Regions from separate parts of the Homo sapiens genome. Here region 1 is linked to region 2. The links come from fine-mapping of genetic effects on gene expression. Tissue or cell type: whole blood. Region 2 holds a variant in brackets; the other region holds the start of a gene. All regions are shown on one strand. Distances are between the middles of the regions.

Region 1 (8,249 bases), 38 kb after region 2:
GCACCAGCAAGCAGTAGTGCCGTCTGGGCCAGACCGACTGGGCTGTCTGATGCAGGAAGTGCGTGAGTCATCCACACACACAGACATTGGGATTGTGTCCAAGACACAGCCAAAAGCCTGCCTGCTATGCCAGTAGTATTAAATGAAGCTCTTCAAGTTTCTCTATCAACTCAGCTGCTAGTGACCATCCTCAGCAGCCACCAGAGGTCAGGACAAAAGAACATCAAGAGGGGATCCAACTGCCCAGGTCGCTTTCGGGCAGCCTCACATCGTGGGTTGGATTGTGGGTGCGGCTTCAATGAGGCGACGACAGTGTTAAAGTTCGAGAGGTTTTAGTATTCACAGACCCCGGGAGGTACATGAGACATCTGGAGGCCACACTCAGAGGAGCAAGAGGACAGGCAGAAAGAGAGCTGACGGGGGTGGCAACTGGCAGTGGGAGTGGGGTGTGGCGCACTTCAAGTTCAGGGGCAAATGTCCGAATGGTTCCCTTTTTTCCTCTGTCACCCAGCTGGACTGCAGCGGTGTGATCTCGGCTCACTGCAACCTTCGCCTCCTGGGTTCAAGTAATTCTTCTGCCTCAGCCTCCCCAGTAGCTGGGCACCACCACCACGCCCGGCTAATTTTTTGTATTTTTAGTAGAGATGGGGTTTCACCATGTTGGCCAGGCTGTCTCGAACTCCTCGGCCTCCCAAAGTGCTGGGATTACAGGTGTGAGCCACCACGCCCAGCCAAGCTACAGCAATTTTCTATGATCATGAAAATCTGAGAATCTTCCCACCCTGGGCTATTTAGCCTCTTTAAGAATGATAGCAATTATGTAGCACTTGTTTACATCTAATACTCATAATAACACTGTGAGGCAGCCATCATCATCCCTTTTTTACTAGGGAGAATCCATGGCCCAGGGACTCCTGTAGTTTTTTCAGCATCATACCTAGCCAGTCAGTGGAGACAGGAAGATTTGTAAACCAGACCGAACAGAGCCACTACCTTTGCACGCTCAAGTGCTGCCATTGAAAGGCGTTCTTCCAAAATTACCAGGATAGGGTCCTGCCCTCGTATAATAAATTTTTTCTCCTATTTCTTTTACTCATTTCCTTCTTTTTTCCTATCATTATCAGTCACTTTCACTGAGGTCTTCCCAGGGACATTGTTTAGTGTAGCTCAGGGTTTCTCAGCTTTGACACCAATGGCATTTTGGGCTGGTTAATTCTTTGTTGTGGTGGACTGTTCTGTACACAGTAGGATGTTTAGCGGCACCCCTGGCCGCTATCCAGAGATGCCAGTAGCAACTCCCCATTCAGGAGTGACAACCAAAAGACATTGTCAAAGATCCCCTGGGAGGCAAAATACCTCCCACCCCCTCCCCCTGCCAGTTGGGTGTCACTGTAACAGTGTAAAGAGTACCAGGCTTTGGAGTCAGTTAGATCTCTACTCTGATCTTATCTCTGACACCTCGATGGTGTAAATTCTTGATCAGTGACATCTCTTTGAGCCCCCATTTTCCCCTCTGCAGAACTGAAATGGTTTTTTGATAAAGACTGATTTTCAGGGGAGGATTAAATAGAATAGACATGGACTGGAGGCTGAGGTGGGGGAATCGCTTGAACCCAGGAGGCAGAGGTTGCAGTGAGCTGAGATTGCACCACTACACTCCAGCTTGGCAACAGAGCGAGACTCCGTCTCAAAAAAAAAAAAAAAAAAAAAAAGAATAGACATGGAAATCATCTAGGATAGGTCGGTAAATCTGTAACAAATTAGAACTCTTAGCCCTCACCAGGCTGTGTGTTGTGTTGTGGGGTACAATCCCGAACCCTGCACTATGAAGCTCAGGGTCAGGACAAGAACGATGCTTATAGCAATAGTAGCTTCTACTTATGAACATTATCCACACACCAAGAGCTTCTCCCTTAACCCTCACAACTCCTCTCATAGGCTCTGTGGATGGGATGTGTTAATATGTGTAAGCACTCAACACACCCTGAGACACGGTGAATATTGATTAATGTTAGTTTTAATTTGTATAACCATTGTACAGACGAGAAAGTTAAGACTTAGATTGAGGTGGGATGTGGTGAGGGATAAAAGATCATTTTTTATACCAAAAAAATTGAAAATTGTATTTCTACTAGATCATTCTATCACATAATCACGCCCCCTCTCTTTCAAGAGAAACCTCCTTTGAAGCATATTTCTTTCCAGCTTCAACCCTATCTAGCCAAATGACCTCTCTGTAAGGTCTGTCTGTAAGACAGAATTTCCAGCCAAACATCCAAAGAGAATGTCTCTAATTCTTCCTTTTCCTTCTTCGCCTCAGCTGTTCTCCTTAATCCACTCCACATTGACTTCTGTCCTTAGCACTCCACCTAATGCATTTTCCCAAGGATGCTTATGACCCCCAGGCTGCCAAATCCAGTGAGTCCTTCTCAGTTTTTAAGACCTGATATCCCAATGACACAGGACCCATTGGATCACTTTCTCCCTTTTCAAACACATTTTTCCTATGCCATGAGATATATCCAAGAGATATGTGCACACAATACACTCTTGGTCGTCTCTACAGCTCGATTCTCTTCCTCTTTTTAGTCCAATTTACGGTGTTTTCTATTCTAAATTTGACTCTAAATGTTGGGGTATCTCACATTCTATAAATGATATCATCCAGTCTCTGGGATTAAACCATTATGCTGTCTTTTCATCTAAATTATCAGCCGTGGCCTCTCCCTGGCACTCAAGTCTGATAAAACCTCTCCCCGTGGGAGTCCCATAGACTCCAAACCTCACATGGTTTTACCAAACTGTTGATGTTCTCTGCCTCCCAGACCTGCCACTCTTCCAATATTCTGTATCTATTTGGAGATTAAATATTCAGTTGTTAAAGCTCCAGATCTAGAACTCACCTTTCATTTCTCTTTTCCTCACCACCCAACGCCATCCACGTCTTACTCATTCTATCTACAGAACATGCTGAATGCACAGCCAGAGCCATTGCCATCTCCACGACCGGTGTCCATGGCCCTGTCAGGCTTGGATATTTGCACAAGCCTTGCAAATAGCTTTTTCCTGGTCCTGCTGCCCCCTCCCCTAAGATCCATTCTCCAGACAGAAACCAAATGAGCTTTAAAAAGGTCCAATAAGATGGTGATGTTATTCGCAATACCTTCCGATGGCTTCCAGACTTCTAAGTTACCCTTATCTTAGGTTCCCTTATCCTAGGTTCCCTTATCCACTGCCACATGTGCCCTGTGCATCCCTCAGACCTCATCTCTGCACTCTCATCAGACACACTGGGCTCCACCCACTGGGCTCTAATTCCTTGAACTTGCAGCTCTTTGTCATCTCAGGGCTTCTGCTTTCTCTATTCCTTCTGCCTACCGTGCTCTTCGTCTTGAGCTTCCTGCACCTGGCTCATCCTGAATATTCATATTTCAGGTCAAATATTATTTCAGAGAGATCCCACCTCACCCACTCTGCAAAGCAGAATGCTCAGGTACAGCCTATCTCACCAGATACTTTTCTCCTTTATTTGTTTGTTCATTTATCTTCTCTCTTAAATACCCTCCACACTAGTACGTAAGCTCCACAGGACTATCAAGATCCTTCAATGCTACATCTCTACAATGCTACATGTCCAGTAGAAATATAATGTGTTAACTTTAGCTACATATGGGACTCAAAATTTTTTTGTAGCCACTGTTTTTAAAAAAGTAAAACACCTTTGGGGAAATTATTTTAGTAATAAATTTTATTTAATTACATATATGATAAAGAATTGGCCAGTCACATTGGCTCACGCCTGTAATCCCAGCACTTTGGGAGGCCGAGGTGGGCAGATCACGAGGTCAGGAGTTGAAGACCAGCCTGGCCAACATATTGAAACCCCGTCTCTACTAAAAATACAAAAAATTAGCCAGGCGTGGTGGCAGGTGCCTGTAATCCCAGCTACTCAGGAGGCTGAGGCAGGAGAATCGCTTGAACCTGGGAGGCAGAGGTTGCAGTGGGCTGAGATTGTGCCACTGCACTCCAGCCTGGGTGACAGCGCAAGACTCCATCAAAAAAAAAAAAAAAAAAAAAAAAAAAAAGAATGTTACTGGAACATGTAACCAAATTAAACACTGTTAATGAAATAGTTAACATTGTTTTCATACTAACGAAGTGGATTCTTCACTGGACTACGCTACTCCAGAGTTAGAAGGGCTCTGTCATATAGCAGGCATTTCAACAATAACTTTAAAATTTTCAGACCCCAACTTACCACCAGCTTAGATCCTTTTCCTGTGCCCAGTTCCTGGATTCCTGTGGAGCAACTCAGGCTCTAAGTACTTGTAAAAAGATGAAGTTATATGTTTGGTTTTAAGATCTTAATTGGCTTTGGTTATAAAGATGGAATCAGACAGCCTGTCATGCTATAAAACAAAATGAGTGTTTTGATAGTTAGAGCCAAGGAAGTTGGTTTTACAGGGATAGGAGGGCTAAAGAAAGCAGAAACAGAGAACAAAAACCTGATTGGTCATCTGGATGTTGCATTTTTTTTGTGCAGCAGGAATAGAGAGACAGCAATAAGGAACAACTGATTGATTGAAGTCAAGTTACCACAGATTGCTTTTTTTTTTTTTTTGTAAAGATGAAAGCAGACAGAACTTCATGTTCATGCCCACTGAAACTGGCCTGTTTTAGGAATTTGTCCATTTTCTCTCTCTCCTGATTTCTCAAAAGTTCAGATACATTAGTTTTGGTTTGGTGATGTGGAGTTTTAGTATGACTGACTCCATTTGGTTTGCTTTGTCGAACCTAGTACAATAGGTCAGTCCAAACCACTTACTTGCTGTTTTTATAGAACAGGCTTCAGCAGAGACTTAGTTGAAGGACACGGGGACAATGGAGCTGGAATCAATCCAGTGACACAAACTCAGGGTTTCTTACCATTCCCAGAAGACACCTTGGAGATGTTCTCAGACGATTTATCTTGGAAACTTATGTGTCTGAATGTTCCTTCACCTCTAGCCTTCTGTGGGAGACTGGAGTTCATCCTTCCAAATATCAAAGGCCAAGAAATCTGAGAGTCCAGGCCCTTTCTTTTCAGAGATTCAGGAAAATGAAAGAAACAATTACCAAGGTGAGAAGAATGAGAGGAAAAACAATAAAAAAACAAAGATGCACGGTGAAACAAAAACTCGATTCTCTACTTTCACAATCCTTCTGACCAAATATACTTTTTCTCTACACCAAGAAATTCTCCAATTCTCTGGGGACACCACCTGGGCCACCTGCAATTAAAAATTCGGTTATGATGCTGTCTACCTGGATTCAGCTCAGATCCGAAAAGCTAAAGGGCTCACTCCCACAAACTGTTCTCAGATCAGATCAGACATCTGTTGCAAGTCCCAGGTGGCTACTTGTACTTCTGACTGACAGGCTATAAATTGGGTGTTCCAATGACACCAATAAATTGCTAGAATGGCACACAGAACTCAGGAAAGCACTTTGTTTGCATCTGTTGCTTTATATAAGGAATATACCTCAGGAATAGTCCATTGGAAAGAGGCATATGGCAGGTATATGGCAGGGAAGGGGTTGGGTGGTGCATGGAGCTTCCATGCTCTCTTCAGGCAGCCACTCTCCCAGCACTCCTGAGTGTTCACCAATGTGGAAGCTCATCAAATCTCATTGTTCAAGAGTTTTTATGGAACTCAATCTCCAGTCCCTGCCTCCCCTTCCTGGAGATCAGTAGGTGGGGCTGACAGCTCCAACCCTCTAATCCCTTGGTCTTTCTGGTGACCAGTCCCATCCTAAGGCCATGATCTCCTTAGCATAAACTCAGCTATGATCAAAAGGGGCTGTTTATGAATAACAAATAATACTCCTATCACTCAGGGAATTCCAAGGGTTTTAAGAGCCCTGTGCCAGAAATCTGTGACAAAATCAAATATGCTTTGAGGTATTTCATACCTCAGAGTTACAAAGAGAAGCAGTAACTAGGAGCATGTAGAGAGGTAAGGAAGGTAAATGAGAGACACTGTACACTCCACACCATTGCCGAGATTAACCCCCTAACCTTCTGCCCCTAGGGAGATGCTCTATGGACTACTGATCTAAGGAGATGGGCTCTTTCTGAGTTTTTAAACACCATCAGAATGTTGTTCTCAAGCCCAAGGAATAGAACCATGAAAAACAGTGGAGAGCCACAAAACAAGAGTCAACTATTTTCTATTTTCTCTCTGATTCACTGGATGTTTTCAGTGATAAGGTAGAGTAAACCAATGAAGCACATAAGCCATGGAGAAATTTATTATTAAAAAAAGTTTTGGAAGGGGATAGATCTGGAGTTTGAACAAAAATTGAGTTTAATGTCACCCTTCCACTCCATCATCATATTGGTTTTCTTCTAGGGCTTTCTTGAAAGTGACCACAGAATGGCTGCCACTGTTCTGGACATTGCATCAACAGGCCCTCCCGAGCCAGAATCATGAGACAGGCAGAAAATGTGACTCATTCACATGCCTCTTCCATTTTATTACAGAGGGAAACCTTGTCCAGAGTCTCTTCAGGACCTCTCCTTGTCTTTCATTGCCAGAGCATGCCATCTCTAGACCAATCAATGGCCAAGAAATAACAAAAATACCGATACATAAAAATAAAGGTCAGGGACAGTGGCTCACGCCTGTAATGCCAGAATTTGGGGAGGCCAAGACAGGAAGATTGCTTGAGCTCAGGAGTTCAAGACCAGCCTGGGCAACATAGTGAGACCCCATCTCTAAAACCAAAAAAATATTAGCTGGGTGTGGTGGTGTGGACCTGTAGTTCCAGCTACTCAGGAGGTGAAGTGGGAGGACTGCTTTGTCAGGGAAGTTGAGGCTGCAGTGAGCCATGATGATGCCACTGCCCTCGAGCCTGGGCAATGAGCAATACCTTACCTCAAAAAAAAAAAAAAAAAAAAAAAAGACAAGTTGCTCATATTGGCTTAGGCCAATCATGATTGCTTTCCTAGGACAGTGGCACATTGCTACCTGCCACCTGATTAAAATGGAATTTACTTATCAGTATAATAAAGGGTGGTGGGTATTGCATGAGGCCTCTGAAGAGGTGCTCCCTTGCTGGCTCCTGCAGACATAGAGCTTAAACAGACATGTGCCTTACCCTGGAGATGCCGACTACCCAGGTAAAGAGGTGACAGCGTCACTCTACTGTGACTAAGCATAGTCTTATGCACCCTTTGTGCACAATGGTGTCCTCTGCCATTTCCCTAAGCAGTCACAGTAGAGTGGGGGTATATAGTGATAGACAGATGCCTGGTTCATTATGAGATTTCCCAAAAGGAACAACTAACTGAGACTGACAGGGTCCAGGGTCACTTCCAAGTGCAATGCAGATAACATCCGGGATGAATCTTAAAGACTCAGATAAAGAAGCAAAAAAAAATACATTCCAGGCAGAGGAGAGTGAAAGCACGCAGGAAAGGGTCAAAAAATAGCAGGTTACCTGCGGTTATTGGAGCATAGATGGTGAGGCAGACAGCAATAAACACTGAGTGTGTAGCAAGTGGCAGAAGCCATCTGTTGGAGGGTCCTGAATGCTACAAGAAGGACTTGGAATTTCTTCATAATAACATGAATAACCATTTAAGCAGGACAGTGACTTGTCAGGTGTGTGCTTCTGAAAAATATTGTTCTGTAGTCCTGCAAAGGGATGCCTTTGAGAATGTTTCTAATTGGAGACAGAGATATTAGAATGGAGAATGTTGCCAGAAATCAAGGTAAGGTTCTTGAAGAGCTACCCAGGGCAGGAATAGTGTGATCAAGAAGAGGCGTAGCTTAGAGACAGATTGTCCAGGCTGAGTAGACCAGCCTTGGAGACTGGATGGCTGTGGGGAATGGGGAAGAATGAGTGCTCTTTATAAATTCCACATTCCTAAAGTTACTATTGCTGCATCTGCTACAGTCTGAATGTTTGTTTCTCCCCTCCCCAGATTTGTATGGGAAATCCTAACCCCCTAGGTTATGGTATTAAAAGGCGGGACCATAGGGAGGAGATTAGAGCGTGATGGTTGCACCCTCATAAATAGGATTAGTGCCTTTGTAAGAAAGCCTTGAGGGAGCTTGTCTGTCTTCCACCATGTGAGGACATATGGAAGGCGCTGTCTATGAGTAATGGGCCCTCATCAGACATGGAATCTGTTGGCATCCTAACCTTGGTTTTTCTTTTTTTATTCTTTCCTTTTTTTTTTTGAGAGAAAGTCTTGCTTTGTC
Region 2 (8,249 bases):
TCACATTCCTTTTCAGATAATTTTTTCTTTTCTTTTCTTTTTTTTTTTTTTTTGAGACAGAGTCTCACTCTGTCACCCAGGCTGGGGTGCAGTGGCGCCCTCTGGGCTCACTGCAACCTCTGCCTCCTGGGTTCAAGCAGTTCTCCTGCCTCTGCCTCCCAAGTAGCTGGGATTACAGGTGCGTGCCACCATGCCCGTATAATTTTTGTATTTTTAGTAGAGACTGGATTTCACCATGTTGCCTATGCTGGTCTTGAACTCCTGACCTCAGGTGATCCACCCGCCGCAGCCTCCCAAAGTGCTGGTATTACAGGCGTGAGCTACTGCACCCAGCCCTTTTCAGGAACTTTTGTTCACAATGTTGTTGCATTTATTAGCAATTCCTTTTTAACTCTAACATTCCATCATACAGATATGCTATAGTGTATCCACTCACCAGTTGACAGACATCTGAGTTACTTCCAGGTTTGACTTTTATGAATAAAATCTCAATGAATGTTCATCTGAAAATGTTCGTGTGGAAACAACAACAGAACTGGTAATTCCATTAAAACGTAAGCAAAGGACATGAATAGACGTTTTTCAGAAGAAGACATAGAAATGGCCAACAGGTACATTAAAAAAGCCAAACATCACAAATCGTCAGAGAAATGCAAATCAAAACCACAATGAGATATTATCTTACCCCCGTCAGAATATCTATTTCAAAAAGTGTAAAACATAAGTACATTTATTTGAATGGTAAGATTTTATGATGATTTCACACTGTTTTTACCACCTTAAGATTTAATGAAGTGTCTGACAATAAAGGCAAAAAAACCTTATTATACTAGTCAGATACTCCAGAAATACTACATACAGAGATTTTTGAAGAGTAGAAATTAAATTACTTGGCTTCATTTTGGTTTCACTGCAAATTTCCACATGATGAGTAATCATTAGAAACAAAGGTTTTTATTATTGTTTTCAAGAACTAGGTATTTTTTTCTTCCATTTATTGCCATGACATCAATGTGAGAAAAACTTTTTAAAACCACTAATGTGTAAAGTATGTGTCACTTTAAAATTGCATGATCCAAACATTACTTAAGATATTGATTTCAAGGTCGGGTGCGGTGGCTCACGCCTGTAATCCCAGCACTTTGGGAGGCCAAGGCAGGTGGATCACCTGAGGTCAGTAGTTCAAGACCAGCCTGACCAACATGGTGAAACCCCATCTCTACTAAAAATACAAAAATTAGCTGGGCGTGGTGGCAGGCATCTGTGATTCGAGCTACTCAGGAGGCTGAGACAGGAGAATTGCTTGAACCAGGGAGGCGGAGGTTGCAGTGAGCCGAGATCGTGCCATTGCACTCCAGCCTGGGGAACAGAGCAAGACTGTCTCAAAAAAAAAGATACTGATTTCAGTTATGTCTGGCCATGTCAGTGAAAACATAACTTTTCTGAAATATTGGTTAAAATAAAAAATTTATTAATATTAATTTTAACTTCAGTTCATAAAAATCACTTTATTCTTCAAGCACAATTTTTGTATTGAACAGATGTATTTAAAAGTAAACTAGTAAGTGTTCCTTTTTTCCCTGTCTTTTGGAAGTGTTTCTTGTAAGACTGATGTTACTTCTTTCTTAAATATTCAGTAGAATTCACAGGTGAAACAATGCAAGCCTGAAGTTTTTTTTTTTTTTAATGGGTATTGATTAGAAATTCAATTTCTTTACTAGGTATTGGACTATTTAGATTTTCTAATTCTTTTTATGACAGTTTCATATGTGTGCTTTTCAAGGAATTTGTCCATTTCATCTAAATTGTCAAATATAATGTTATAAAGTGATTTGTAATATCATTTTAGTGTGTTTAGTCTCTGTAATAATGTTCCTTTTTTCATTCCTAAGATTGGTCATTTGTATTTTCTCTTTTTTCTTGATTAGTATTGCTAGAAACTTATCCATTTTATTGATATCTTAACATAACTTTAATATTTCCTCTTCTATTGATCTCTATTTCATTTATTTCCACTTTTAAAAGTTATTTTCTTATATTTTCTTTAGATTTAATTTGATATTTTTCTAGCTTCTTGAAATGTAAACTTAGATCATTGAGTTCACACACTTATTCTCTAATAAAAACACTTAAGGTAAAAATTCCCCTGTAAGGGAGGCTCAGGTTGGATGATTGCTTGAGGCCAGGAGTTCAAGAGCAGTCTGGACAACATAGCAAGACCCCACCTCTACAAAAAAATTTAAAAATTAGCCAGATGTGGTGGTGAGTGCCTATAACCTCAGCCATTCAGGAGGCTGAGGCAGGAGGATTGCTTGAGCCCAAGAGGTTGAAGCTGCAGTGAGCCGTGATTCTGCCACTTCACTGCAGCTTGAGTGACAGAGCAAGACCCTGTCTTAAAAAAAAAAATCGTGTGCACACTGTCTTTAGCTTTAAATCACAAAATTTGAAATGTACTCCTCTTATCCTTCAGTTAAAAATATTTTCTAATCTTCATTAAGATTTATTTGGCCCATGGGTTATTTACATATATGTTGTTTAGTTTCCAAAGATTTGGGCATTTGCTAGTTATGTTGTTATTGCTGGTTTTTAATTTGATAGATTATGGTCATGGAATATACTTAGTATAATTTAAAGCCTTAGATTTTTATTAAAACTTATTTTATAACCCAGCACTTGAAAAGAATTATATTGGGTATTATGTGAAATATCCTACTCTTAGGTGTAAGAAATGGTTTATAAATGTCAGTTAGGTTACTTGATTGTGCTTTTTAATTCTCTGTATCTTGAGGCCAGGAGTTTGCCTGGGCAACATAGTGTGACCTTGTTTCCACAAAACAAATAAATAAATAAAAGGAGTGTGGCTGCACATGCCTCAGCTACTCCAGAGACTGAGGTGGAGGATCACTTGAGCCCAGGGTTTTAAGGCTGCAGTGAGCTATGATTGTGCCACTGCACTCCAGCCTGGGTGACAGAGCAAGACCCTGCCCCTACTCCAGTACTATTTTTGTAGCTACATAAGTGGCTAGAAAAAAAAAAATCTATTGTGTGTTTTTGAAAAGCTAGAGGAGAGGATTTTGAATCTTCACCACATAGAGAAATGATAAATGTTTTAGGTGATGGATGTGCTAATTACCCTGATTTGACTATTATACACATTGTATGCATGTATCAACATATCACTCTGTATCCCTTAAACATGTACAATTACGATGTGAACTAAAACTAAAAGAAAAAAATATATTGTACCCCTAACTGTTAATCTAAACCATCAGCCCTGACCACTTCCCAAAATTCCAGCCTCATAAAATCAGTCAACTTCTTGGAATTTCTGTGAACACAAGCAGTAGGCATGACAAACTAAACATTCTGAAAACAGTATCCCCAGTTCTCCTATTCCCTGACCTGCCCCTTCCTCAGTTTTCTTTCTTTTAGGAATCAGAGGCATTGTCCTCTCAGTAGATTAAGTGCCAAGTCTAAAATTTATTATTGATTTTTCTCTCATTTGGTAAGCAAAATCCAAGTGCTGCTGATTTTATGCACCCCAAGAATCACCTACAGGCTCATGCCATCTCTTGTCTGGATGCCTGAACTAGCTTTTGCAAACAGCTCTCTCTCTCCATGAACAGAAGCAAAAAATGACTTTTTAAAACACAATCAACATAACTACTTCCAGCGGTGATGGCATAAGAGAGACCAGATTTATGCTCCTACCTTAAACAACTAAAAATCTAGGGAAAATGGGAAAGAATGGTTTTCTGACACTGGACAACAGGTAGTATAGCATTGTAATCTCCAAAAAAGGGGAAACAAATAAGATGATTCCCGTGATTGCCTTGATTACTGACTTGAGAGAGTTCCCAGGCCACAGAGTAGGAGGGGAAACACAGGTAGAGCCCGGTAGACTCTTTGAAATAAGAAGATAAAGTTGGGAGTTGGGAAGAACAAGGCAGATAGAGTTGAAAGATTAGTACTGAATAAGAGAGTACTGCAGACAGAATATGATTAAGACATCAGTTCTTCTTCAAGCAAATCCATAGATTCAATGTGATTCAAGTTAAAAAAACATTAACCTAATTCTAAAAATTTATATCGAAAGGCAAAGGAACTAAAATAGCCAAATTACTTTTGAAAAGGAACAACATTGGAGTATGTCAAGACTTGCTATTAAGCTACAATTATCAAGACAGTGTGATATTGGCTAAACGGTAGACAGACCAATGGAACACAATAGAGTCCGGAAATAGATCCACACACAATATTGACTTTTGACATACGTAAAAAATTCAATGAAGAAAGAATATTATTTTCAACAAATGATACTGGCGTAATT[G/A]GACATTAAAAATATTAACAAAAAAGAAACTCAACCTAAGCCTCACATTCTTTGCAAAAGATAATTAAAGATGGATTATAGATTTAAATATTAAATGTAGAACTACTACATTTTTAGGAGAAAACATTAAAAAATGTCCAGGACCAAGAGCTAACCAAAGAATTCTTTGACATGACACCAAAAGCACAATCTGTAAAAAAGGAATAAGTTGGACTTCATAAAAATGAAAAATTTTTATGGTTGATTAGCCAGGCATGGTGGTTTGCACCTCCAGTCCCAGCTACTTGGGAGGCTGAGGCAGGAGGATCACTTGAGCCCAGGGGGCAGAGGCTGCAGTGAGCTGAGATTGCACCACTGCACTCTAGCCTGGGAAACAGAGTAAGACCTTGTCTCAAAAAAATAAAAAATAAAAATAAAAAAAGAAAATTATGGTTAAGCTTTAGACTCAATACAAATTAAAAAAAAATAGAGCAGATCATCACATTGCTCTGTATCTTTTAATGGCTACCAGGTGTCTACCTCAGGCTTAACAAACTCTGCTGTATATGGTTCAGACCTCATTTTCTGGATACCCACTCTCTTTCTCACTGAAAAATGACAGATGAATGTGGAGGCTGCTACAATAGATGAAGAAAAACAGAGGCGTCAAAGGCTCTCAGACCAGCAAAGAATGAGAGAAGGGAGGTGATTTTGTGATTGACAAAAAGCTACAACAAGTGCTATGAAAAGAACTAAAATATTTGCTGAACTAGACTGGAGAGAGCCTGAGAGGCTACGTTATCTTAGGGACTCAGAAAAAAATGTTCTGAGGAGGTTATGTTTAAACTGAGATTAGAATTACATGAACTGGTCACATGAAAGTTCAAGAGGAAGAATATTCCAAGCAGGACAACAGTTAGTACAAAGATTCTGAGACAAGAATGATTTGGTATGTTTGAGAAATAAAGATATTACTAGTGTAATTACTAACATAATCGATGAAAGAAAAACTGTTGAGGAAGACCATCAGAAGGACAGGCAAAAGCCAGATAATATGAGGCTTTGGGAGTCAGATAGTGGATTCAGATGTTTTTATTATTAGCATGATGGGAAGCTATTGGAGGGTGTTAATCAAGAGATGGGCACGATCATGTTTATATTAGAAAAAAAAAACTTTGGCTGCTGTGTAAATAACTGATTGCTGTAGAGCAAGAGTGAATGCAGAAAGATTAGGAAACTATTGTAGTGGTCCGGATGATGATGGTTTGAAGTCAGGTGGTAGTGGACAGGAAAGAAACACACAGATTTGGTCCACGTTTTTGACATAGAGTCAATGGGATATGGTGATGGATTAGATTAAAAGAATCAATAGGCCGGGTGCAGTGGCTCATGCTTGTAATCCTTGCACTTTGGGAGGCCAAGGCAGGTGGATCACTTGAGATCAGGAGTTTGAGACCAGCCTGGCCAACATGGTGAAACCCCATCTCTACTAAAAATACAAATATTAGCCAGGCGGGGTGGCATGAACCTTGTAACCCCAACTACTTAGGAGGCTGAAGCAGGATAATTGCTTGAACCTTGGAGGCAGAGGTTGCGGTGAGTGAAGATCGCACCACAGCACTCCAGCCTGGACAACAGAGTGAGACTCCATCTCATAAAAAATAAATAAATAAAATAAAGAATCAATAATTACTTATATTTGGGACTTAAGACATTTGGTAGAGTGTGATGACTTTTCCTAAATTTGGAAGAAATGTAGAAGATTTGTCAAGCAACTGTTTCAGGGGGAATCAAATTGATAGTTTTACTTTGATGATGCCCCATAGGTTTTCAAGTGGAAATGCAGAGGAGGGAGGTAGATACCAGTCTGGAGTCCTGAAGAGAAGTTGTGGATTATGATGGATGTTTAGGGGGAGTCATTTATGTACAGATGGGATTTCAAGTTATAGGAACACATTACCTAGGATGACTGCATTGATGCAAATAGATGAGGGGGGTCTAGAATTGAGCCCTCGGGTACACCAACATTTAAAAGTCAGAAAAGAGCCAGTCAAGGAGATTGAGAAAGATAAATCACTGAGGTAGGAAGAAAACCAAACAAGTGTGATGTCACCAAGAGAATTATATATTTTAAAATAAAAGGGTGTGGACAACTGAGTCATATATGCTTAGGGGCCTAAGATTCCCATCATTATCAGATAAGCATATATGACTTAGATTTACTCCATTGGATTCATAGGCAAGCACCAAATGTCTGAACCTGCAGTGCAGTAACATGGCAATGGATGTCACTGTTGTCCTTGATAAGAGTAGTCCCACTGCAGTAATCAGGACATGAACCCATTTAGAATGAGTTCTGGAGAAAATGTGAAATGAGGAAGTAGAGAAAGAAACTGGAAGTGACCCTTGAGTTTGCTGTCAAGGAGAGCAGAGAAATTTGTTGTAAAGTTCAGGAGGACGCGTGTGGTACAAAAGGTTTTTATGTTTTCAGTTAGTAGATTAGAGAACAGATGTATATGCTGATGGCAAAAACACAAAAAGAAAATGGCATGATAAAGTAGACAGAGAGACTATTTTCATTTCTTCCACTCAATTTCTACTAATTTATATTAGTTAATGCTTCATCTTTCCTCTGTTTTTTTTTTTTTTTTTAAACACTAGAAGCATATGCTATGTCAGTCAGGTTTCCACCAGATAAATAGGACTCAAAATGGATCACAGACCTAAATGTAAAAGACAAAATTATAAAACTCCTAGAAGATAACAGGAGAAAATCTAGATGACCTTGGGTTTGGCACCCTGTTGTTTTGACTTTACAAATTGTTACTAAAAACATCTGGGGGTGAGCTCCATTTGCACTGGCCTTGTGGGCAGTTGTTTCCCTTTTGAAGGTGCCCCACTTGACCTCTGAGTGGCTAGTGGGGACAAGGAGTGATAGCAGGAAGGAATGCAGCAACCAAGGAGGCACTGGCCTCAGCAGCACTTGCTCTTGAAAATTGCCAAGGGGACTTGTGCAGTTGCCATATTACAGGTTAGGCTTAGGTGACTTGATCCTTTCATCCTGGCTCTCCTTTATCAACACACTGAAGCCCAGCATTTTATCATCTTTTCTGACTTCACTATGAGGGAATTGCTGCTACCCAGGAGCCTGGTATCCTGTGGCTCTCTCATCAGTGAGATGTGTAGGAGATCGGTCAGGATGGTGGGAAAAGTTGTAAGATAAATTATAGGAAAAGGATGCAAACCTTCTTGGAAGGCCTGGGATTTGCATAGCTTCAGAAGAGGATTTGGCTGAAGGCAGCTGAATTTTCTCAGAATGGATAACAAGGAAGTGTAAAGGAATTGATCTAGATAAGTTAGTTTACTTAGGCCTCGGAACCTGGTATTTAATCATCTGTGCACAGGACTGCTGTCTTGGGGGGTGGGGGGTGACAATGTTAATTACCCACAAGACGTGTTGACTCCAGGCCTTTGTCATTAAATCTGTACTGAATAAATGCCCACAGTGCCAGCTTGTCGGGGCTGTGGCTACTGACTCTTTACAGCTCCCTCCTCGGTGTCTGTGAGCTGCCCAGTCCCCTAGCCTGCTTTTTCACTGGATATCAGTCTCAGAGTGCATTTTTCATCTGTCATTCGGCCAGGTTGGACCCTGGCAGAGATGGACATAGAGTTTCACCATACTGGCCAGCTCACTCTGGCTGGAGACCAGGACTTTGCAACTTATACCCAGTACAGGCCAGACTACTACCAAGACCCCATGTAACAAGAGCAGCATATATAGCTCAAGGGACAACGTGCCCTCAAGTAGTGGCCTGTCACCAGGGGCCTGATTAGAGAAAGAGTGACTACTGTTCATAGCGAAACATCCTCATTACAATGAAACCTGCCCTCCAGGAGCTGCAGGGGAGCCTGAAGGCTCAGAGAGCTGTCTATATTCACC

What was found. PIP is the estimated chance that this variant, and not a neighbour inherited with it, causes the effect.
Region 1: FPR3 starts here. The variant in region 2 is fine-mapped to the expression of FPR3 in whole blood (TOPMed, PIP above 0.99).

The regions. Positions count from the first base shown.
Region 1 is chr19:51,791,341-51,799,589 of GRCh38, reverse strand. FPR3 (formyl peptide receptor 3) reads right to left here and starts at 4,433. Exons shown (of 2, transcript NM_002030.5): 1 at 4,259-4,433.
Region 2 is chr19:51,828,848-51,837,096 of GRCh38, reverse strand. It overlaps a transcript of ZNF577 not described here. Among named protein-coding and RNA genes, the nearest start is that of FPR3, 38 kb to the right of the region's middle. The variant G/A (reference allele first, on the strand shown) is at 4,331.